3 separate regions of the Homo sapiens genome follow, and all the other regions are linked to region 2. The links come from fine-mapping of genetic effects on gene expression. A gene starts in region 2. Each other region holds a variant in brackets. All regions are shown on one strand. Distances are from middle to middle. Region 1 overlaps TMEM41B (transmembrane protein 41B). Region 2 holds the start of TMEM41B (transmembrane protein 41B). Region 3 overlaps TMEM41B (transmembrane protein 41B).

The links. PIP is the estimated chance that this variant, and not a neighbour inherited with it, causes the effect.
Region 1: its variant is fine-mapped to the expression of TMEM41B in whole blood (INTERVAL, PIP 0.99).
Region 3: its variant is fine-mapped to the expression of TMEM41B in whole blood (INTERVAL, PIP 0.97).

Annotation. Positions count from the first base shown.
Region 1 is chr11:9,276,163-9,284,347 of GRCh38, forward strand. TMEM41B (transmembrane protein 41B) reads right to left here. Exons shown (of 7, transcript NM_015012.4): 7 at 4,492-7,431. The coding sequence ends at 7,262. Among named protein-coding and RNA genes, the nearest start is that of TRL-CAA5-1, 5.0 kb to the left of the region's middle. The variant A/G (reference allele first, on the strand shown) is at 4,854.
Region 2 is chr11:9,309,807-9,317,991 of GRCh38, forward strand. It overlaps TMEM41B (transmembrane protein 41B), which reads right to left and starts at 4,787. Exons shown (of 7, transcript NM_015012.4): 1 at 4,515-4,787. The coding sequence starts at 4,635. It also overlaps the pseudogene PRR13P2. RefSeq lists enhancers at 3,978-4,495, 4,496-5,011 and a silencer at 4,777-5,126.
Region 3 is chr11:9,286,265-9,294,449 of GRCh38, forward strand. TMEM41B (transmembrane protein 41B) reads right to left here. Exons shown (of 7, transcript NM_015012.4): 4 at 2,178-2,271; 5 at 1,438-1,542; 6 at 191-329. Among named protein-coding and RNA genes, the nearest start is that of TRL-CAA5-1, 15 kb to the left of the region's middle. The variant G/A (reference allele first, on the strand shown) is at 4,985.

The sequences.
Region 1 (8,185 bases), 34 kb before region 2:
CACGCCTGGCCTAATTTTTAAATTTTTAGTGGAGACGGGGTTTTGCTATGTTGGTCAGGCTGGTCTGTAACTTTGGGCCTCTAGCAATCTGCTTGCCTTGACCTCCCAAAGCGCTGGAATTACAGGTGTGAGCCACTGCTCCTGGTCCCAGATCTTGTAATTAATACAGATATGTGGACCATAAAAGGTAATATAATTCCCGTGAAATGTAAAATACATAGATTTTTTTTTTGGTAAGCCTATACAAACTTCACCTAGAAAAAACACCACTCCCATGTAGTAGGTTTTGACAAACGTTGGAACTGCCAAAAGCCCCCACCAAAACAACCTACCTGGGCTGCCATGGGCAAGACAATAAAGTGAGAAGCAACTCAACTGACCACCTTTGAGGCTGGGACCCTGGGGTGATATAGCTGGGCCACTCCTTGGCCTGCTGGCTCAACTCCTGCCTGCCACCCTCAAGGTTTGCTAAACTCAAGTTGTGAGTTATCAGCATATGTAACCTGGCCCCAGGGGCCCTGCAGCTGACAGGCAGAGCTGCTGCTCATATTTGTGTACATGGTACCATGAGACACCATCATTGTACTCATTATTAATTTATATGGTTGACGACAGTTTTCCAACAGATGGCAGTAAAATATCTTAAGAAAGAGGCACCTGGCCAGGCGCAGTGGTGCGTGCCTGTAGTCCCAGCACTTTGGAAGGCCTAGCTGTGAGGATTGCTTCAGCCCAGAATTTCAAGACCAGCCTTGGCAATGCAGTGAGACCCAGCACCCCCACTGCCATCTCTACAAAGAAAAAAGAAAGGGGCATCTTCTTTTTCTTTTCTTGAGATGGAGTCTCGTTCTGTCTCCCAGGCCAGAGTACAGTGGTGCGATCTTGGCTCACTGCAACCTCGGCCTGTCGGGCTCAAGCGATTCTCTCACCTCAGCCTCCCAAGTAGCTGGGATTACAGGAGCGCTCCACCATACCCTGGTATTATTATTATTATTATTTGTATTTTTAGTAGAAATGGAGTTTCACCATGTTGCCCAGGGTGGTTTTGAACTCCTGAGCTCAGGCAATCCGCCTTGGCCTCCCAAAGTGCTGAGATTGCAGGCATGAGCCACCGTGCCCAGCGACATCCTTTTCTACTTCATCCAAAACCACCATATGAGCTAACAGTAGGGCTATGTTGCCCAGCGTGCTGCTAACAAATAGCAGAACACAAGACTCTCAGAACCAGAAAGTCAACATTCATTGTGCTGTCTCACCACATGGCTTCCTCCTGTGCCTCTACTTCATTCTTTTCTTGTCTTCCATCCTCATTTATCAAATCCAACATTTCTCTACTAAACAGAAAAGCTACTGGGCGCCGTGGCTCATGCCTGTAATGCCAGAACTTTGGGAGGCCGAGGCGGGTGGATCACCTGAGGTCAGGAGTTCCAGACCAGCCTGACCGACATAGTGAAACTCTGTCTCTACTAAAAACACAAAATTAGCTGGGCGCGGTGGCTCATGCCTGTAATCCCAGCACTTTGGGAGGCCGAGTTGGGGTGGATCACGAGGTCAGGAGTTCAAGACCAGTCTGGCCAACATGGGGAAACCCTGTCTCTACCAAAAATACAAAATTAGCTGGGCGCAATGGCGGGCACCTGTAATCCCAGCTACTCAGGAGGCTGAGGCAGGAGAATTGGTTGAACCCAGGAGGCAGAGGTTGCAGTGAGCCGAGATCACGCCACTGCACTCCAGACTAGATGACAAAGCAAGACTCTGTCTCAAAAAAATAAAAAAGTTAATTTACTTAAATGTGTGTGAAAGTATATTGTAAGATGTAAAACAAGCTATACAAAGCAAGGTATGCTTAATTTAATATTCTGAATTGGGGGCAGCTTATTAAACTTTCATTAATTTCAGAGAATCTTATCATGTCTGAGCTGTAAGGATCCTGGACCTTAGACCTCTTTATTCTAGATGAGAAAAATGAGGATGAGAGCTTAAGCAATATCCTGCCTCAAGTCACCCAGACTAAGTTTGTCCCAGATAAAGAAAAATAATAATGAGAATACTGAAAACTGCAATGAGATGTATCTTCTAAACATCTTAACTATGACCACCGAATGATTATCAGGAAAGCTTCAGCCCTTTTGATTATACACATTTTCAAAAAGCCAGAGAACTTTAAAAAGATTCCTTCATAAACAACTCATTGTATGTACTAGAAATATTTACTTGGCCAGGCGCGGTGGCTCACGCCTGTAATCCCAGCACTTTGGGAGGCTGAGGCGGGCGGATCACCTGAGGTCCGGAGTTCGTGACCAGCCTCAACATGGAGAAACCCCGTCTCTACTATAAAAATACAAAATTAGCCAGGCGTGGTGGTGCATGCCTGTAATCCCAGCTACTCGGGAGGCTGAGGCAGGAGAATTGCTTGAACCTGGGAGGCGGAGGTTGCGGTGAGCCGAGATCACGCCATTGCACTCCAGCCTGGGCAATGAGAGCGAAACTCCGTCTCAAAAAAAAAAAAAAAAGGAAATATTTACTTACCTCAACTATTTATTTAGCGACAAGGTCTCACACTGTTGCCCAGGCTGGAGTGCAGTGGTGCTCACTGCAAACTCCGCCTCCTGGTTTCAAGCAATTCTCCTGCCTCAGCCTCCTGAGTAGTTGGGACTACAGGCGTGAGCCACCACGTCCAGCTAATTTTTGTTATTTTTAGTAGAGACAGGGTTTCACCATGTTGGCCAGGCTGGTCTCAAACTCCTGACCTCAGGTAATCTGCCCATCTTGGCCTCCAAAAGTGCTGGGATTACAGTCCTGAGCCACTGTGCCCGGCCTTACCTAAACAATTTAAATTGCTTTAGAATCTTCAAAAGCCGGCTGGGCTTGGTGGCTCACGCCTGTAATCCCAACACTTTGGGAGGCCTAGGAGGGTGAATCACCTGAGGTCGGGAGTTCAGTCTGACCAACGTGGAGAAACCCCATTTCTATTAAAAATACAAAATTAGCTGAGTGTGGTGGGTGGCACGTGCCTGTAATCCCAACTACTCCGGAGGCTGAGGCAGGAGAATCGCTTGAACCTGGGAGGCAGAGGTTGCAGTGAGCCAAGATCGCACCGTTGCACTCCAGCCTGGGCAACGAAAGCGAAACTCTGTCTCCAAAAAAAAAAAAAAAAACCTCAAAAGCCAACAATTACAAGTTTTAAATATTTTAGCCAGGCACCGTGGCTCACGCCTGTAATCCCAGGACTTTGAGAGGCCGAGGCGGGCGGATCACGAAATCAGGAGATCGAGACGATCCTGGCTAACACGATGAAACCCCGTCTCTACTAAAAGTGCGAAAAACCAGCCGGGCAAGGTGGCAGGCGCGAGTCCCAGCTCCTCGGGAGGCTGAGGCAGGAGAATGGCGTGAACCCGGGAGGCGGAGTCTGCAATAAGCCGAGATGGCGCCACTGCACTCCAGCCTGGGCGACAGAGAGACACTCCACCTCAAAAAAACAATTTTTAAATATTTTGTTGTTTTTTTTTTTTTGATACAGTCTCGTACTCTCGCCCAGGCTGGAGTGCAGTGGCGCCATCTCGGCTCACTACAAGCTCCGCCTCCCGGGTTCATGCCATTCTCCTGCCTCAGCCTCCCTAGTAGCTGGGACTACAGGCGGCCGCCACCACACCGGGCTAATTTTTTGTATTTTTAGTAGAGACGGGGTTTCACCATGTTAGCCAGGATGGTCTCAATCTCCTGACCTTGTCTCCACCCGCCTCGGCCTCCCAAAGTGCTGGGATTACAGCCGTGAGCCACCGCGCCTGGCCTGTTTTGAGATGGAGTCTCACTTTGTCACCCAGGCTGTAGTACACTGGTGTGATGTTGGCTCACTACAACCTCTGCCTCCCGCGTTCAAGCGACTCTCCTGCCTCAGCCTCCCAAGTAGCTGGGATTACAGGTGCACACCACCACACCCAACTAATTTTTTATTTTTAGTAGAGACGGGGTTTCTCCATGTTGGCCAGGCTGGTCTCGAACTCCTGACCTCAGGTGATCCACCCACCTTGGCCTCTGGAAGTGCTAGGATTACAGGTGTGAGCTACCGTGCCCGGCCATTTCATTGTTCTTAGTGGTGAAAATGTACATCGAAATTTAAGAATATACTTTTATTCAACGAAGAGTTTGTTTTTAGTTTTTTGAGACAGAGTCTGGCTCTGTTGCCCAGGCTGGAATGCAGTGGCACAATTTCATCTCATGGCAACCTCCACCTTCTGGGTTCAAGCAATTCTTCTGCCTCAGCCTCCCAAGTAGCTAGGACTATAGGCGTGTGCCACCACACCTGGCTAATTTTTCATATGTTTAGTAGAGACGGGGTTTCACTGTGATGGCCAGGCTGGTCTTGAACTCCTGACTGCAGGTGATCCACCTGCTTCGACCTTCCAAAGTGCTGGGATTACAGGCGTGAGCCACCTTGCTCGGCCAGAGTTTTTTAATGTAAGTACTTCCATGAAATAAATCCCAAATGTGACATTTAGGTTTCTCCAATACAATTTATTATTATTACATTTTAGCTTGCATTTACTAAGTGTCATGGAAATATTATACTCAAAATAACAGAGCTCCAGAGAAAGACAGTTAACTAAGAAAGAACAGTTTCACTTTCTTAGCTTGTCAACTCCTAGTTAGCCTGCTTGCCTCCGCACCACAGATGCTTGTCTTCTTGTGGTTGTTACCACAAGCCAAAGCTTGAATTTACATGGGCATCAGGCCAAGTCTGTAAATCCGTGAAGACAGGCCATCAACTGCATTGAGGGTACAGCCTTGCTGAAGGGTCCTTTCTTGACAGTCAATGATGATGAATCTGGAAAAACTGTCTATTCTCTTAGGAGAAG[A/G]AAATATACCCCACCTAAAGTCGCAGCTACCATTAACAAAAAAAAAAATTAGCAAAGGGAAAGAATCAATGGTAAGGACAGTAAATATACTCTGAGAATAGAGTAAGTACAATTTACACACGCTGGAGTAAATAGTGAAGCTTCTACTGAGTTCTACTGAGTCTAAGCTCTTTTATTTTTAAAATTCTGATAAAAATTTACTCAATTACATTTTATACATTAATATTTAGTGAATTTGTCCAAAAAGGCTATGTTTAATTTATGTGTAAAAATAACAAAAGATGTATCAGTCAGTCTCTGGGCAATAAGAAAGGAAGAAAGCCTTGCTAGAAATAATAAATAATCTCACGCAAAAGGCCAGGTGACATAAGAATACTACAATAATCAATATGTTTTCTTTGTATTTACAATAAAATCCATCTGTTAACACTGTGATAGAAAAAATAATCAGTCCACATCATGTAATAAAAACAGGCTTTGAGGATGATTATACCTCTTATAATAAAAACATACAAGGATTTCTCACAGCTAAAGTACTTTTCAACTTTGACAACTAATAACAGTCATGGGTGAAGGTAAAACTGACAGAGTACTTTAGATCAGCTATGTCCTACAGTCAAGGAATCAAGGGCATTACCCATTTACCAAGCAGCAAAAAGCACTTTCATTTTTCCAGAACTATTTAAATACAGTAGTTGCCATGTGATCAGTTAATTTTACTTTGTGAGTTAGATAAAGTAAAGACTAAATTGGGAAACTGCAATAAGTAATCAAAAGTAGCTCCAAACAACAAAGCCATCAATAGAAACAAAAGGCATTTTTCTAGGTGTATCATGCATAAAAAGAATAATTACATAATATTATTAAATATATTCCTTAATGACCAGATTAATAAATGAGGTAAAATTTAGTCATTGGAACAAATAAACTATATTTAATCACTTGTGTTTTGCTGTCACTGTTTAAAATAATTAACTTAATGTCTAAAAACTACATACTCTTGAATGTTTGCTTTTTAGAGCCCCTTGTGGGATATTAAAGAGCCATAACAAATTATCTGAATATAAATTATCAATACCAGGCTGGGCACAGTGGCTCATGCCTGTAATCCCAGCACTTTGGGAGGTGGAAGTGGGCATATAGCCTGAGGTCAGGAGTTCAAGACCAGCCCGGCCAACATGGTGAAACCCCGTCTCTACTAAAAACACAAAAATTAGCTGGGCACGGTGGCACACACCTGTAATCCCAGCTACTCAGGAGGCTGGGCCAGGAGAATCGCTTGAACCCAGGAGGCGGAGTTTGCAGTGAGCCGAGATCACACCACGCACTCCACTCCAGCCTGGGCAACAGCAAGACTCCGTCTCAAAAAAAAAAAAAATTATCAATACCAAATATGATACAGTTATGTAATACCCATTTTGCATATGCACAGTGGAAATACTGTAAAAACTACAAGATGAAAGAAAACCGACTGGCCAGAACTTTAAATTTCAGACTAATCCATGATAAAAATCTAGATGATAAAAAACAAAAATAAAATTAACAAAATAGATAACTTGATATCCTTTCCATATTCAGTCGTCTACTAACATGCCATCTCCAAACAAATCCATTACCTCAAAAGAGGAAGAAAATGGGCCAGGCGCGGTGGCTCACGCCTGTAATCCCAGCACTTTGGGAGGCCAAGGCGGGCAGATCACGAGGTCAGGAGATCGAGACCATCCTGGCTAACACGGTGAAACCCCGTCTCTACTAAAAATACAAAAAAATTAGCTGGGCATGGTGGCGGGCGCCTGTAGTCCCAGCTACTCAGGAGGCTGAGACAGGAGAATGGCGTGAACCCAGGAGGTGGAGCTTGCAGTGAGTGGAGATCGCGCCACTGCACTCCAGCCTGGGCGGCAGAGCTAGACTCCGTCTCAAAACAGAAAAAAAAAAAAAAAAAAAAAGAGGAAGAAAATGTAAATCTCTTTTTAAGTTTTCCAGTTTATGCTCTGAAAAAAGCCTAACATTAACAAAACCTGCAACACTACTTTAAAAAATCTAGAATTTAAAAATATCTATTTTAGTTATTAAAGATAAAAAATATTCAATTAAATTGAATGAATTAGCTGGATCAACAATTTCCTACCACACTACTATTATCTACAGCTACCCTTGGTATAATAATTTATAAGATGTCTAAGATGTCTACCTTAACTATTGATAGCACTTTTCACAGTATACCAATTTCCATTTTTACTTTCTTCTCCCCTTGTCACTTAAATGTATTACTTTAACTATCTGATAGGAAATTTTATTTTACAAATTCCTTGTTTAATTACTGAAGAGGTGATTTTAAAACATAAATGGATGCACCTGTTAATCCTGAGATGGTGATGACAGCAAAACTAAAAATCAGATGATTATTTTTACTCAAATTTCTGCTTTAGTTTTTTTTGGAAGATGGCTGGCAGAATAGAAAGAACAGCCAAGATCATCAGAATAAATATTGAGTTCCAGGAAACAGCTTCTCCTGCTGTTGTAAGTTGATACAGTGTTGTTCCTGCCTTAATGGCTACAAAAGAAGGAGGTGCGACACCTGAAATAAAATATAAAAAGATACAGTAAAAACCACCGCAATTGTTTTTAAAAAATTAAAATGTTCTGTGTGCATAAAGTTTCTTAAAACAACACAGCTATTTCCATTTTGGAAAAAAAATTAAGAATTTAAAGCTCAAGTTTATTTCCATATAAAGAATTCAATCTTTCCTAATCACCTCTTAAGGATAATGATTTTTTTTTTTTTTGAGACGGAGTTTCGCTCTTGTTGCCCCCGCTGGAACACGATGGCGCGATCTTGGCTCACTGCAACCTCCGCCTCCCGGGTTCAAACAATTCTCCTGCCTCAGCCTCCCGAGTAGCTGGGATTACAGGCATGTGCCACCACACCCGGCTAATTTTGTATTTTCAGTAGAGATGGGGTTTCTCCATGTTGGTCAGAATGGTCTCAAACTCCCGACCTCAGATGATCCGCCCACCTCAGCCTCCCAAAGTGCTGGGATTACAGGCATGAGCCCCTGCACCTGGCCAGAATAATGAATTTTAAAAACGCAAGAAAAGGGCCCAGAAAATAGTTTTACATTTATCAAAAATGCTTTTGTTTTCTCCCCCCGAGAGTTTGACTCTATCGCACAGGCTTGAGTGCAGTGGTGCAATCATCACTCATTGCAGCCTCAGTCTCTCGAGGCTCAGGTGATTGTCCCACCTCAGCTTTCTGAGCAGCTGGGACTACAGGCGTGTACCACCACACCCAGGCAAAATTTTTGAATTTTTTGTCAAGAGAGGGGGTTTTG
Region 2 (8,185 bases):
AGCTACTTGGGAGGCTGAGGCAGGAGAATGGCGTGAACCCGGGAAGGGGAGGTTGCAAGTGAGCCAAGATCGCACCACTGCACTCCAGCCTGGGTGACAGAGCAAGACTCCATCTCAAAAAAAAAAACAAAAGAACAAAAAAAAATATTGTTTTCTAGAAGCAATAAAATCAACTTTGAGACAGTGTTTTTCAATCTTTTTTGATTGTGTTCCAAGTAATGTATTATTATTATTATTATTTTTTTTTGAGATGGAGTCTCACTCTATCACCCAGACTGGAGTGCAGTGGCGCTATCTTGGCTCACTGCAAACTCCACCTCCTGGGTTCAAGTGATTCTCCTGCCTCAGCCTCCCAAGTAGCTGGGATTACAGGTGTGCACCACCATGCCCAGCTAATTTTTGTATTTTTAGTAGAGACAGGGCTTCTTCATGTTAGTCAGGCTGGTCTTGAACTCCTGACCTCATGTTCCGCCCGCCTCGGCCTCCCAAAGTGCTGGGATTACAGGCATGAGCCACCATGTCAGCCTAAGTAATGTACATGACCCGGTATACACAAAATCTATATAACTCAAGGAAAGATTAAACAAAAAAAAACCAGCATTTAATCCCAAAGCACTGATATTTTCTCTTCTATTCCATTTTTTTTAAAAAAATGCTTATTATTGATTATCCATCAAATTGATTTCACACCCCTCACAAGGGTCATGACTTATATATTGAAAAACATAGTCCAGCTCTCTTAAGTTAAAATGGAGAACTTGCTAGTAAATACATAGGTCGGGGCAAACACCACCAAAAAAGTTATGTACTCTAGTCCAGTCACCTTCAAACCGATTAGGTTAAGAGCCCTTTTTTTTTTTTTTTTTTTTTTTTAACCAGGAGAAATAACTTTATTTGGACTGAGAGCTGGAGAACAAGAATAGGACCTGAGATAGCATACTGGGCTAAGGAGGAGAGGTAAGGTTCCAAAATGGCAGTCAAAGCTCATCGACCAAACAGACTCTACTTCCCAGCAACCTTGCAGTTAGTGCAACCAACAAAAGGCCTGCTGGGGAATGTATTTTCCACTAAATTCCCCAAGTATGCCAACATTACAAAAAAGATAGAGGTTTTTCATCATAATTAAATTTCCACAATCCTCCCCAATCATGAGTATTATAAGCAGAAGTAAAAAATCACATTTTACAGATCTCAAACTTGTCTTCAACATTTAGTTCATCATCTTCAAAAAACAGCTCCCCTGCTAAACTCATTAGCTATATGATCTATCCAAGCAACAACAAGATGGCCAGGCCATGCCAATTCTCTTCCCATTTTCCCTAGCCACTCAGGGCTCAACAGCAGGGTGAAGCTCAGGCGGGGGTAGGGTGTGGGGAGCACAAGGGCTACTTTCCCCCAATACAACATGGCATCTGAAGCTTGATAGGAGAGCAGAACTGGTGAGACTTGAGGGAAGGACCCAGGGCCTGTATTCAGTCAGAATCACTGCTGGAAGAGGAGGAGGAATGCTTGCTATGCTTGTGCATCTTTTTATGAGCTTTCTTCATTTTCTTCTGTATCTTCTTGCCCACTATCACTGCTGGTCCAACCATGCCAGGAGCCAAGGGACTCACAGGAGGCATTCCAGGAGCAGACGGTGGGTATGGAGGAGGGTAGGGACCCGAGGATTGGCATCCTGGATACCCTGGCTGTGGCACAGGATGAGGGGGCCAACCTGGGGGGAAAGCTGAATTGCCTTGCGGAGCTCCTGGGGGAGGAGGACAGGGGCCTGGGGGAAAGGGTGGGTTGATAGGTGGTGAGTGGGCAGGATTGGAACCTCCAGGGCACCCAATGTTGGGTGGATATGGATTTGGCCCTGGCTGCCTGGCACTGGGATTCCACATGTTTAGGTGTGTCCTCCAGCCTTTCCACTGCTGCCTGGGCTTGATGCATTCTCAAGAGCTTCTTAACTAGTTTCACCTCCTGTCTGCTCTCTCATCTTCATCATGCAAAAATTAGACTTTCCGTGTTACCTCTGCCTTACTCAAGTAGTCAAAGTGGTCCACAGTCTACTAGGCTTAGCTCTGAGACTAGAGGCCAGAGTAATGGCAAGGAATCCACTAAATGTACCAAACATTGCAGATAGCATGTAAAACAGTTCAAACATACATATGATGATAACTACTTATTTGTCAAAGTTATATATGTGTCACTTAATAGAATACAAATTCATTTCCAAGTATCATGGAATTTACAGGAACATTCTGACACATCCTGAACAGGCCAACCTCATCGCCTACTACCACCCAACAGAAACCCTCTGCTCCTGACAAATTAATCTCCCTACCCACACACATAAAAGTTTCACACTAACCTTCAACCCTACTACTCTCTTTCTCCTAGCCTGGAATACCCTTCCCTTCTCTTTACTTATCCAAACCTTACTTATCTGGCAAAGCACAATGGCTCATGCCTGTAATTCCAGCATTTGGGGAGGCCAAGGCAGGAAGACGCTTGAGCCCAGGACTTCAAGACACCCTGGCCCCTTCTCTACAAAAAACAAATAATTAGCTGAGCATGGTGGCACACACCTGTAGTCAGCTATTTGAGGGGGCTGAGGTGGGAAGATCGCATGAGCCCAGGTAGCTGAGGCTGCAGCAAGCTATGATCATGCCACTGCACTCCAGCATAGGTGACACAGCGAGGCCTTGTCTCAAGTCACTAAAAACAGGCCTTACTTCATCATGAAGTGAAGGCACGCCTTCACATCTCTTCCCTGTCTTCCTATAGATTTGTGATCTATAGATGTCATGGGACAGCATCATAAGAATAATTGTAGGCCAGGCGTGGTGGCTCACGCCTGTAATCCCAGCACTTTGGGAGGCCGAGGCGGGCGGATCAACAGGTCAGGAGATCGAGACCATCCTGGCTAACAAGGTGAAACCCCATCTCTACTAAAAATACAAAAATTAGCCCGGCGTGGTGGTGGGCGCCTGTAGTCCCAGCTACTCGGGAGGCTGAGGCAGGAGAATGGCGTGAACCCAGGAGGCGGAGCTTGCAGTGAGCCAAGATTGCGCCACTGCACTCCAGCCTGGGTGACAGACCGAGACTCCGTCTCAAAAAAAAAAAAAAAAAAAAGAATAATTGTGTTGAATGTTTTGTTGTAATGATAAAATAAGATTAAAAAGTAAGAGCACTTTGGAAGTTTCAAGGTTTTATTTTTTGAATAGCTTTAGGTAAAAATCATGAATACAACTGGCTGCTACCTCAAATGAGATGTCAATTTTTAGGGATGCCCTATCTGGAACACTTTTTCAGGAAACCCAGACCTTGGAATATTGTCACCCTCAGTAGTAGAGTCTTCAAAACAATCTTTCTTTTATTCAGAGCTGATTTATACATTAACAACGATTCATTTCTCAGTTTTTGAAATTATATGAAGTCACCTGGATCCAGTGTATATAAGCTGGAAAAATACCCAAAAACATAAGGCTGACAGAGCCAAATTAGACTGTTGGAGACATTTTAAATTATTTGAAAATACATTAACATTTTCTACTACATACTCTTAGAAGTTCTCCTAGCCATCACTGGTGGTGGAACACACCTATGTGAGCTACAGACAAACTTGTTAGGATCACTTTAAGTTTATGAGCTTTAAAATCATTTAAAGAACGATTCCAGGCCAACACGGAATCAAAGTATTTAGTTTCTACGTACAGTTTTTTCCTTAAAACAATATTTAAAGCCGTGAGATTCTGCAATTATAGAGGCAGTAGGAATAAAGAGAAAACAAAAACCAAAAATAAAGCCGTGAGAAATGTCAGGATGATGTAGTGGGGAAATAAACTTTAGAATGAGTGACCTTAGCTGTAACTAAGTAATTGCTAATATTTATTTAGCCCCCACTTCATATCCAAGCATTGCTCTAAATCTTTTACGTGAATTATTTCGTTTAACCCACGCACCACCTATTAAGTAGATATTATTATTATCCCCATTTCACAGTTCAGACACTGAGCTTTTTTTGAAAGTTACCAAGTCCAAGGTTCCAAGTAAACAGTAGGGCAGGGACTCAAGCCCAGGTGTACTGCCACCTGGAAGTATTAAGTCCTCGCTCCTAACTACTACTTCACTGATCTGGCTTTATGACTTTATAAGTCATATACCCACACTGGGCCTCAGTTTCTTCATCTGTAAAAACAACGCAGCGAATGCCACAGTACAGCTCCTTCCAGCTCTGCCTAGCGTCGTTATCATCAACCTTACAATCTACCTGAGCGTCAACAAGCCAGTGTCATCCCTTCTTTTAAATGAATTCTACTCAAACAGCATTTACAACGCACCTACTCGGCGTCCGGCCTTGTGCTGCGCGAGCGCCCAAGCCCAACTCCCCCACGGTCTCTGCTCCCGCCGCGGCGCCAGCAGGCCCCCCTCTTTCCCCGCGACTCTCCGAGAATAGCGGGGGTCCTTTTCCCCACCCGACACACAGAAGCCTCGGGCCACCCCCAGCTCTGCTCCCCGGGCCCACTCACCCTTCTGGTGGTCTCTGCTGCCAGGCGCCGCGAGACCCCGCGTCCCCGCTGCCCCGTCCCCCACGGGGGTCGTGTGGTGAGCGCCCAACTGCGATCGTTCGGCGACTCTGCCTTTCGCCATGGCTGCTGCAAGGTGAAGGGAGCGGTGCGGTGCCGCGCCCCCTAAACAACAAAACTCTGTTGCAGGCTCCTTACTACGCCGAAGCGCCACGGCTAGAGCCACTTCCGGCGCGACCTCCTCACCCGAGACGACCTCAGCCCAGCGAGTACTGCAACCTCCTGCAAACACCCGCAGCGCCCACCACAGGCTAAACCCCGCCCCGTGCCGCCCCCGAGCCTCGCGTGCTCGCGCCGGCCCAGTAACCGCGAGACAAGTCAGGGTCCTGGACCGCCCCCTTCAGTGCCCCGCCCCGGCCCGCCCGCGGGAAAGAGGTGGCCGCCGGGCGCTGGGGCGAGAGCATGCGCAGTCGCGGCACTCGAGTCACCCGGCTGCGACTCGCTGGCCCTGGCGTCTAAAGCGTAGCCTTAATTACCCGGAAGTGCGGTCCCAGGGACTTCAAACCTTTTGTCCAGGCCGCCGGAGGTGCCTGTGATTAGTCGGCATTTCGCGGCTGAGGCTGATTCAGCCCATTACATCAATTCCGCAGCTGCTGTCTTCAATTTGGAGGCGCCAGAGAGTGCTTGATCTAAAAGATGGTGGGAAATACAAAGGTTGAGCAAAACCTACCTGAATTTCAGGAAACTAAGGCTCAGAGAGGGCTACGTACAACCTGTGAAGATCACAGGATGGCAAAAATGGGCTTAGAATCCAGGTTGTCCTGTTCCCAAAGCTAACGGTTTTGCATTAGCTGCTGCCCCTTACTACTAAACCCAAGTCAGCTCTACATTTAGCTTATCCCTAAGCTAAGCGGAAACATGCCTTTTCCACAGGTAACTTTTTCTGCTTCTACCCCTCAGAGCACATTCAGCTTACTCACCGTGGTTACCTCTTGAAAGCAACTTAGAGGCCGGTCGCGGTGGCTCAAGCCTGTAATCCCAACACTTTGGGAGGCCAAGGCGGGCGGATCATTTGAGACCAGGAGTGTGAGGCCAGACTGGCCAAAATGGTGAGATGAGACCCCGTCTCTGCTAAAAATACAAAAATGAGCTGGACATGATGGCTTGTAATCCCAGCTACTCGAGAGTGTGAGTCAGGAGAATCGCTTGAACCCCGGAGGCTGAGGTTGCGGTGAGAAATTGCACCGCTGCACTCCAGCATAGACCACAAAGCAAGACTCCGTCCCAAAAAAAAAAAAAAAAAATCCTGATTGTTTCTATTCAGTAATTACATTTGTAGGAAATTATTCCATGAAAATAAACATAAATAATTCCTCTGTATTAGTATAACAGTGAAAAACTAAAAGCAATATAAAAATCCAACACTAAATAAAAATGGTTAAGTAAATTATGGGAAACCCATTCAATTGAACTGTTTTATGTACACATCCTTTGCCTACTTCTGGCTCCCATTTTATTTCCTTCATAGTCATTAAAAGCAATTAATTCTGTGAACTATTTGTTTACTTGTTTATTGTCTGCCTCCACCTTTAGAATATAAGCTTTAAGGCAGGGGCTTTGTCTTTTTGTTTTTTGTTTTTTTAAGTGATGGGAATCTCACTATATTGTCCAGGCTGGATCTGAACTTCTGGACTCAAGGGATCCTCAAGCATCAGCCCTCTGAGTAGCTGGGACTACAGGCTCCATGCTATGGCTCCCAGCTGGGCTTTGTCTTTTTGATCACCATTGTATCCCCGGTAGCTGACAGAGTGCCAATACCTAAGTGGCCATTCAATGAATTTGTTGAATAATTTTTTTTTTTGAGATGGTGCCCAGCCGAATAAATTTTCAATCTTAGGAAATTATATTTATGGGCCAGGTGCCATGGCTTACACCTGTAATTTCAGCACTTTGGGAGACCAAGGTGGGCGGATCACCTTGAGGTCGGGAGTTCAAGTCAAAAAAAAAAAAAAGAAAACATTTTATATATTTTACTATGCAAACATTAAAAATTGAAGTACAACAAAAACTAAAAACAAACACTGAGAAGTATTTGACACATAAGAATTACTACAAATCAGTAAGGAAAGCACAACTCAACAGAAAAATGGGCAAAGAATATGAATTATCAACACACAGAAGAAAAAATTAAATGTGCTTAAGACATCTGAGTGCGCAGTGGGAAAGCCAACTCCAAAACTTAGGAAATTCCAAAAAATTAGGAAAAGATGAACAACCTCAGTGCAGTGTGATAAGAGTGACTGAGGGGTGCGCAGATTGCAATAGCAGAAGAGAGGAATATCTAAATTACAGTGGGGCTGTAAAGTCTCCCAGGAAGCAGGATTAAAACTGATTTTTAGAGGATGAATAGGAATTAACAAAGTTGAAAGCAGAGAAAATAGCTTTTGCAAAGGCTAGAAGCTACTGCTTATATTAGAAAAAAAGCTTCAAGCAAAGGGTGGGAGAATGGAAAGAAATGCTACGAAAGATATGAGACCAGGACCTTATCACAAACTGCTAAAAGTTTGAACTTAATCCTCAAAGATATTTAACCAGAGAGGGACTTAGTAAGATTTGTATTTTTGGCCGGGCACATTGGCTCACCCCTGTAATCCCAGCACTTTGGGAGGCTGAGATGGTTGGATCACCTGAGGTCAGGAGTTCAAGACCAGTTTGAAAACCCGTCTCTACTAAAAGTACAAAAAATTAGCTGGGTGTGGCCGGGTGTGGTGGCTCACGCCTGTAATCCCAGCACTTTGGGAGGCCGAGGTGGGCGGATCACGAGGTGGGGAGATCAAGACCATCCTGGCTAATATGGTGAAACCCCGTCTCTACTAAAAATACAAAGAATTATCCGGGCGTGGTGGCAGGCGCCTGTAATCCCAGCTACTCAGGAGGCTGAGGCAGGAGAATGGTGTGAACCCAGGAGGCAGAGCTTGCACTGAGCCGAGATCGCGACACTGCACTCCAGCCTGGGTGACAGAGCAGGACTCCATCTCAAAAAAAAAAAAAAAAAAAAAAAAAAAAAAAAAAAAGCTGGGCGTGGCAGCGGGCGCCTGTAATCCCAGCTACCCGGGAGGCTGAGGTAGGAGAATCGCTTGAACCAGGGAGGTAGAGGTTCCAGTGAGCTGGGATCGTGCCATTGCACTCCAGCCAGGGCAACAAGTGTGAAACTCCGTCTCAAAAAAAAGATTTGAATTTTCAAAGCTTATTCTGACCGCCTTATGGAAGTGTGCCAAATCAACAGCAGAAAGAGAAGTTAGGAGATTACTGCAATAATCCTGGCCTGACCTAGCATAGTGTACTGGAGACAAAAAGAAGATACCAGATATAAGATTATGTATGAGAAGAACTATCTCTAAACTTTTATTACTTTAATTACATGAATATATACATAGTCATTCCAGACAAAATTTTTTTTTTTTTTGAGATGGAGTTTCACTCTTATTGCCACGCTGGAGTGCAATGGCATGATCTTGGCTCGCGGAAACCTCCGCCTCCCAGTTCAAGCGATTTTCCTGCCTCAGCCTCCCAAGTAGCTGGGATTACAGACATGTGCTACCACGCCCGGCTAATTTTGTATTTTTAGTAGAGGGGGGTTTCTCCATGTTGATCAGGCTGGTCTCGAACTCCCG
Region 3 (8,185 bases), 24 kb before region 2:
AAAAATAACCTAAATCAACACAATTCAACAAACACTTCTGAGCATCTATTTATACAGCCAGGCTTTGTGCCCAAGAATTCTAGATGGTGCTGGCATAATCTGCAGAGAGCATGCATGTAATCTAGCCCAGCTGGACACTGTTAGATATGTACACAGTGAGCTCATACACAGCAAGAACCAGAGGGCTTACCTAGAAAAGTACCAATAAAAAAAACTTTCAATGGCACGTTTATCACAGGAGATGTGATATTAATAAACCAATTAGGCAGAAATGGTGTTATTCTCAAAAATATAATGTAGTTAATGAGATGTTCTCTATGACGTTCAACCTGTCATAAGAAAGAAAAGAATTAGCATCAGATGAGGACAACTTCAAAATAAGTTGCTTAATATAAACACCTTATTTCAAATTCTCATTCCTGATACTTCAGAGTATACCCAATAGAAATGATCAGGCTGGCGAGGTGGTTCATGCCTGTAATCCCAGCACTTTGGGAGGCTGAGGCAGGCGGATCACCTGAGGTCAGGAGTTCGAGAACAGCCTGGCTAACATGGTGAAACCCGTTTCTACTAAAAATACAAAAAATTAGCCGGGCATGGTGGCATGTGCCTGAAATCCTAGCTACTTGGGAGGCTGAGGCAGGAGAATCGCTTGAACCCGGGAGGCAGAGGTTGCAATGAGCCAAGATCACGCCACTGCACTTCAGCTTGGGCAACAAGAGCGAAACTCTGACTCAAAAAAGAAAAGAAATCATCAAAAAAGGCCAGTGGTGACTCATGCCTATAATCCCAGCACTTTGGGAGGTTGAGGCAGGTGGGTCACCTGAGGTCTGGAGTTCGAGACCAGCCTGGCCAACATGGTAAAACCCTGTCTCTACTAAAAATACAAAAAATTAGCCAGGCGTGGTGGCATGTACCTATAATCCCAGCTACTTGGGAGGCTGAGGCAGGCAGGAGAAATGCTTGAACCGAGGAGGCAGAGGTTGCAGTGAGCCGAGGTCATGCCACTGCACTCCAGCCTGGGTGACAGAGTAAGACTCCGTCTCAAAAAAAGAAAAGAAAAAAATGCACTGGGAGTTGGCTGATACAAGTGTTTCCATAACAGATGCACACAATACTGCATTAACATAAAACAGATAGGTATCTAATTATGTGGATGCCTTTATATTCACACTGACTTCTCTGCTGATTAAATTTACTAAGATAAAGAATTAAAATTACCATCACAGGTCTGAAACATTTGTATTTGAAATTATTAACATTCATATTTGCCTACCACCCATTTTTATTTGGTCAGAAGATAATTCTTATTACTTGAGTTAACTTAGGAATTAATTTATGTTGGGTTAATACATGTAGTTAATTCATGTAGGGACTAAACACAGACCTTCCAATTAACAAAGAGTTACATCAAATAATTTAAAAATACATGTTTACCTGCTGTGACCATTTTACTGCTTTCTCTGTTAGGTATTTGTATACAACTGGTCTCCCAACTAAATAGGAAAGCATATAACAGAAAGAGGCACCAAGTCCAGAACACTGGAAAACAAAAGAAGCCATAAGCGTTTTGTATTTTTCCGTCTTACTCACATTGATTTATTCACCTGAGTAAAAAGCTCAATTAATTTACTTCTTTCAGAGGTGGGGAGGGTACTCTGCATGACATCTCTTGTGCAGAGATGATCTAGTACTTTCTCAGACCAAAATGTACCTCAAATGAGATCAGCTAAAACAAACTGGCACTTGTGATTACACCTAGTGACTATATCCAAATAATTAATGCTAGGCTTTAGCCTAAGAATAAAATTTCAGGAGCCAATTTCCACCTCCCCCCGACCCTACCCCCGACCCCCCCAGTTCCTAAGCTTGAAAACACCACCTCTGGCTCTGGGACTTAACTCATTGTGCTCACCAACACTCCTTGGACTGTCGCAGTTACAAAATCCAATAGGAAAGAAAAGCTAAAACATAGCTTATAAATGCAACTAAGTCTATAATTGGTCTGTTCTGGGGGAAAAACAAATTATAACACCTCCTTGTGGAGGGACTTTAACATTAACTCCTCTTCAATTAATGAGTTTATGCTTACATAGACTAGTAGGGTTAAAGTATCATCATCATCCTCATCATTCTATTGTTTTTTCAGTCTCCCAATTTTATTTTTTCATACTTACCAAACAAACAAGAAATAAGGCTAGTGGAAAGGGATAAAGAAACCCTGAGAGTATACTGAGAAATATAGAGCCTGGAATAGCAAATGTTTGCAAGCTGGTAACTTTTAAGTTAAGGATTAGAATATAATTAAGTAGAATTTTAAAAGACAAATGTAACATTTCAGGAAAAAAGTATAAATACAAAAATTATCATACAATGAGATTATATCCAAAGGTCTAGCCTCTAAGTTGACCATTTACTAAACAGTATCATAAATACTAGTAAGTGTGTGCTACTAAAAGGTTTCCAAGACAAAAAACCGTATGTTCTAGATAGAGAGGAACCGGGCACTTTGGGGGAGGAACAAAAGAAAAAAGAAAAGGTCTTCCGTAATCTTTTAGTGCTTCTCTAATACATTTTATTTTACTCCCAAATGTTTTCAGGGAAATCATGTACATACAATTATTTCTAATTTAACTATGAAGGTTTACCTAAATTCACTACTCATTTTAAAGGAATAGGAACTACAAGAGAATAAAAGAAAATAAGAAAAATAAGAATAGAAATTACAAAATATAGTAAAAGTCACAAATCTTATTTGAGAAGGGGTCTTGCTTTGTCACCCAGGCTGGAACGCAGTGGCGCACTCATGGCTCACTGCAGCCTCAAATGCCCAAGCTCAAGCAATTCTCCCACTTCAGCCTTGCAAGTAGTTGGGATCACGGACGTGTGTCACCACACCAATTTTTATTATTTGTAGAGATGAGGTCTGGCTGAGTTGCCCAGGCTAGTCTTGAACTCCTGGGCTCAAACGATCCTCCCACAATGGACTCCCAAAGTGTTGAGGTTACAGATATGAGCGACTACACCCGGGCCACAAATCTTGTTTTTAAAATAGATTTTTTTTTTTTTTTACTTTCCTGTCGTTCCCAGTTTGGATCTGAACCTTTTTCCCCTCTAATATGATTTACTCACAAGTCAAAGTGAATTCCCTCAACATCTCTCCATCTATCCTCACTCATTAACTATTCCTTTTTCTCTAGTTCCCATTTTACTCATGTTCTCATTTCAATCTCCTCCTCCTTCCTCCTGGGTTTTTTCACCTTCAACTCTGTTCTCTTTCACAGGATGCCTCCTCTACAAAACTACTCAGTTGTCTATAACTTAAAAAACAACCTCAACCAGGGTATCCTATCCAGCTACCGCTCATCTTCACTTCCTCAGAGGAGATTCTCTCCTCGTTCCCTGTGACCTGCTTTACTATTCCACTATGCTATTGAAACTTCCTCACAGCCAATAATAACTTTTTCTCAATAGTCACCTTTCAGTGATCCCTGCATAGGATTAGACTTCATCCTGCATGAAACATGGCTTCAGTGAACTGTACTTTTTCTTCTACATTACAGGTAATTTCTTCTCTAGATTTTTCTCTTTGCCCTCAACTCTTGAAATTTCTCTAACATTCTGTTGGCCACACAATCCCTTTTCTTTGATAAATTTGGCAATTTCCATGGCTTCAAGTATCAACCACATATAGTACTAAAAACTCGAAATTCTCTTTGGTTCATCAGCCTCAAATTTTCCACCTGTCTCCTACATGTCTCTGTCAAAAACAAAACACACACACACACACACACACAAACACACACACTTTTTGGGTTAAGATTGTACTATATGGACCGGGTGGGGTGGCTCATGCCTGTAATCCCAGCACTTAGGGAGTCTGAGGCAGGCGGATCACAAAGTCAGGAGATCGAGACCATCCTGGCCAACATGGTGAAACCGTCTCTACTAAAATACAAAAAACTAGCCGGGCGTGGTGGTGGGCACCTGTAGTCCCAGCTACTCGGGAAGCCAAGGCAGGGGAATCGCTTGAACCCAGGAAGCAGGAGATTGCAGTGAGCCGAGATCTCGCCACTGCAAGCCAGCCTGGCAACAGAGCAAGACTCCATCTCAAAAACAAAACAAAACAAAACATCATATTATGGATAGTTTCACACATATGTAAATGTAGAAATACTCAATGTAAATGACAAGTTGATGGGTACAGCAAACCAACGTGGCACACATATACGTATGTAACAAACCTGCACGCTGTGCACATGTACCCCAGAACTTAAAGTATAATAATAAAAAAAAAAAAGAAAGAAAAGAAAGCAAGACTCCAAAGGATGAAAGGAGATAAATGGAAATTTTCCCTTGAGGAAATTGAGAGAAGCAGAAATAAATGAGGACAAGTTCCCAGGAAGTGTTTTGTTGTTTTTGTTGTTTAACGCAACTGTATTTTTTCCTTTCCCAAAATTTGGTGCAATTCCTACTTCTCTGAAAAGGAAACCTAAAATTACAGCTGAAATTGGGGAAAAAAAAACAAAGTAGAGAAACTAGTGTTATGATGCCCTATATTAACATATTTCAGGCTGGGCACCGTGGCTCCCGCCTGTAATCCCAATACTTTAGGCAGCTGAGGGTGGATCACTTGAGACTAGGAGTTGAAGAACAGCCTGGCCAACACGATGAAACCCTGTCTTTAATAAAAATACAAAAATTGGCCAGTCACAGTGGCTCATGCCTGTAATGCCAGGTACTCAGGAGGCTGGGAAACGAGAATCTCTTGAACCCAGAGGGCAGACGTTGTAGTGAGCCGAGATCATGCCACTGACCTCTGGCCTGGGAAATAGAGTGAGACTCTGTCTCAAAAAAAATAAAAATAAAAATAAGGCTGGGCGCGGTGGCTCATACCTGTAAATCCCAACACTTTGGGAGGCCAAGGCAGGTGGATCATGAGGTCAGGAGTTCAAAGAATACAAAAAATTAGCCGGGCGCAGTG[G/A]CAGGTGCCTGTAATCTCAGCTACTTGGCAAGCTGAAGCAGGAGAATTGCTTGAACTCGGGCAGCGGAGGTTGCAGTGGGCCGAGATCGCGTCGCTACACTCCAGCCTGGGAAACAGAGTGAGACTCCCATCTCAAAAAAATTATAATAATAATAAAAATAAATTTTTTTTTGAGACTGAGTCTCGCTCTGTCGCCAGGCTGGAGTGCAGTGGCATGATCTTGGCTCACTGCAACCCCTGCCTCCCAGGTTCAAGCGATTCTCCTGCCTCAGCCTCCCGAGTAGCTTGGATTACAAGCGTGTGCCATCGCGCCCAGCTAATTTTTTTTATTTTTAGTACAGACAGGTTTCACCATGTTGGCCAGGATAGTCTCCATCTCCCGATCTCGTGATCCACCCCGCTTGGCCTCCCAAAGTGCTGGGATTACAGGTGTGGCCACCACGCCCGGCCAATTCCTTTTTTTTTCCTTTCGTTTTTGTGGTAGGAGTCTCGCTCTGTCGTCCAGGCTGGAGGGCAGTGGCGTGATCTCAGCTCACTGCATTCTCCGCATCCCAGGTTCAAGCAATTCTCTGCCTCAGCCTCCCAAGTAGTTGGAATCACAGACGCCTGCCACCATAACTGGCTAATTTTTGTATTTTTAGTAGAGACAGGGTTTCACCATCTTGGTCAGGTTGGTCTTGAACTCCAGACCTCGTGATCCACCTGCCTCGGCCTCCCAAAGTACTGGAATTATAGGTGTTAGCCACCGTGCCTGGCCTCCTTTTCTTTTTAACATAAATATGATACCATTGTCAGACTTCAAGAAATTAACTATAATTCCTTATTGTCCTAAAGACTAGTCTGATCAGAATCTAGAAGTCCACACAAAGTATTTGCTCAAAGGATCACTTAAGCATAGGGTCTTTATTTTTTCTTTCTTTCAATTTACTGAAGAAACCAGATCATTTGTAGAATTTACCATTTATTGAATTTTGCCTATTGGATACTTAGGGTAGTTTATGTTCTATCCTTTATCTTATACTAGTAGTCAAAACTATGCTTCCTTTTAAATGGGAATGTGACTTGAGCTTAACTTTGTTTAGATTTCTCTTCTCTTACACTGAAAAATCTTGGTTCTTGATAACACCAACATAGTTGCCTATTTGTGCTTTATATACTATGAAACATAAAGTAAATGTATAAAATATATACTATGCATTAGTATTAATAATCTAAAACGTTTCCACATATTTAAATATTTTACAACATTATTACTACTAACAATATGATGACTAAAAACAGTTTTAAGATTTTTGGCTAGGCCTGGTGACTCACACCTGTAATCCCAGCACCTTGGGAGGCTGAGGTGGGAGGATCACTTGAGCCCAAGAGTTCCAGTTCGAGACCAGCCTGGGCAACATGATGAAATCCCATCGCTACAAAAAAATACATGAAGAGACGGGATTTCTTCATGTTGGTCAGGCTGGTCTTGAACTCCCAAACTCAGGTGATCAGCCTGCCTCGGTCTCCCAAAGTGCTGGGATTATAGGTGTGAGCCACCACACCCGGCCCTGATAATACTATTCTTAATTTTTGAGGAACTGCCATACTATTTTCCATAGTAGCTGCATCATTTTGCATTCCCACCAACAGTGCTCAAGAGTTCCAATTTCTCCACATCCTTGCCAACACTTGTTATTTTCATGATAGCCATCCTAATGAGTGTGAGGTTGCTTTTGATTCTTAAGATTCCTGCTATTCTCTTTTTTCATTTTGATTTTGTAATTATGTAAAACATTTACTTGGTTCTCAAGTCAAACCTACGCTAAGAAAAGTTTCAGTCCTACCATTTTATCTCTCTCCCTACAGGTAAACATTTTTACTGGTTTATTTATTTGAGATACAGTCTCACTGTCACCTAGGCTGGAGTGCAGAGGCTAAATGCTTCGCTGTAGCCTCAACTTCCCTGGGCTCAGGTGATCTTCCCACCTCAGCCTCCCAAGTAGCTAGGACTACAGGCATGTACCAAGACATCCAGCTAATTTTTGTATTTCTCGTAGAAACTGGGTCTAGCTACATTGCCCAAGCCAGTCTCGAACCACTGGCCTCACGCAATCCTCCTGCTGAAGCCTCCCAAAGTGCTGGGATTACAGGAATGAGCCACTACACCCGGCCAATTAGTTTTTTAAGAAAAATATAACAAGATACTTATGTATATGAGTGTACTCATATTATCCCCTTCTTAGATAAAACACAGCATATTTGTGTACTATTTTGCCCTTTGTTCTTTCACTTATCTGTATATTGTGAGTTAATACCTCAACAACATATGGATACTTCTGATTCTTTTTATTTTTGTTATTTTTATTTTTTGGGGATGGAATCTTGCTGTCACCAAGGCTGGAGTGCAGTGGCACGATCTCAGCTCACTGCAACCTCCACCTCCTGGGTTCAGGTGATCCTCCTGCCTCAGCCTCCTGAGTAGTTGGGATTACAGGCATGCAATCACCACGCCCAGCTAATTTTTGTATTTTTAGTAAAGATGGCGTTTCACTATGTTGGCCAGGCTGGTCTGAACCCCTGACCTCACGTGATTCACCCGCCTCGGGCTCCCAAAGTGCTGGTGTTGCAGGCATGAGCCACCATACCTGGCTACTTCTGATTCTTTTTAAATAGCTATATAATATCCCAGTGTTGTCAGGCGTGGCGGCTCATGACTGAAATCCCAGCACTTTGGGAGGCTGAGGAGCTCAGGAGTTCAACACCAGCCCAGACAACATAGCAAAACCTGGCATCTACAAATAAATCCCAAATTTAACTGGGTGTGCCTGTGGTTCCAGCTACTCGGGAGGCTGAGGTGGGAGGATCACTTGAGCCCAGGAGGCTGAGGCTGCAGTGAGCCATGATCATGCCACTGCACTCCAGCCTGGGTGACAGGGGGAGAACCTGTCTCAAAAAAAAAAAAAAAAAAAAAAAAAAAAAAAAAGCCGGGCACAGTGGCTCTCACCTGTAATCCCAGCACTTTGGGAGGCTGAGATGGGCAGATCACCTGAGGTCAGGGGTTCCAGACGACCCTGGCCAACATGGTGAAACTCCGTCTCTACTGAAAATACAAAAATTAACCAAGTATGGCGGCAGGCGCCTGCAATCCCAGCTACTTGGGAGGCTGAGACTGGAGAATCGCTTGAACCTAGGAGGTGGAGGTTGCAGTGACCAGAGATT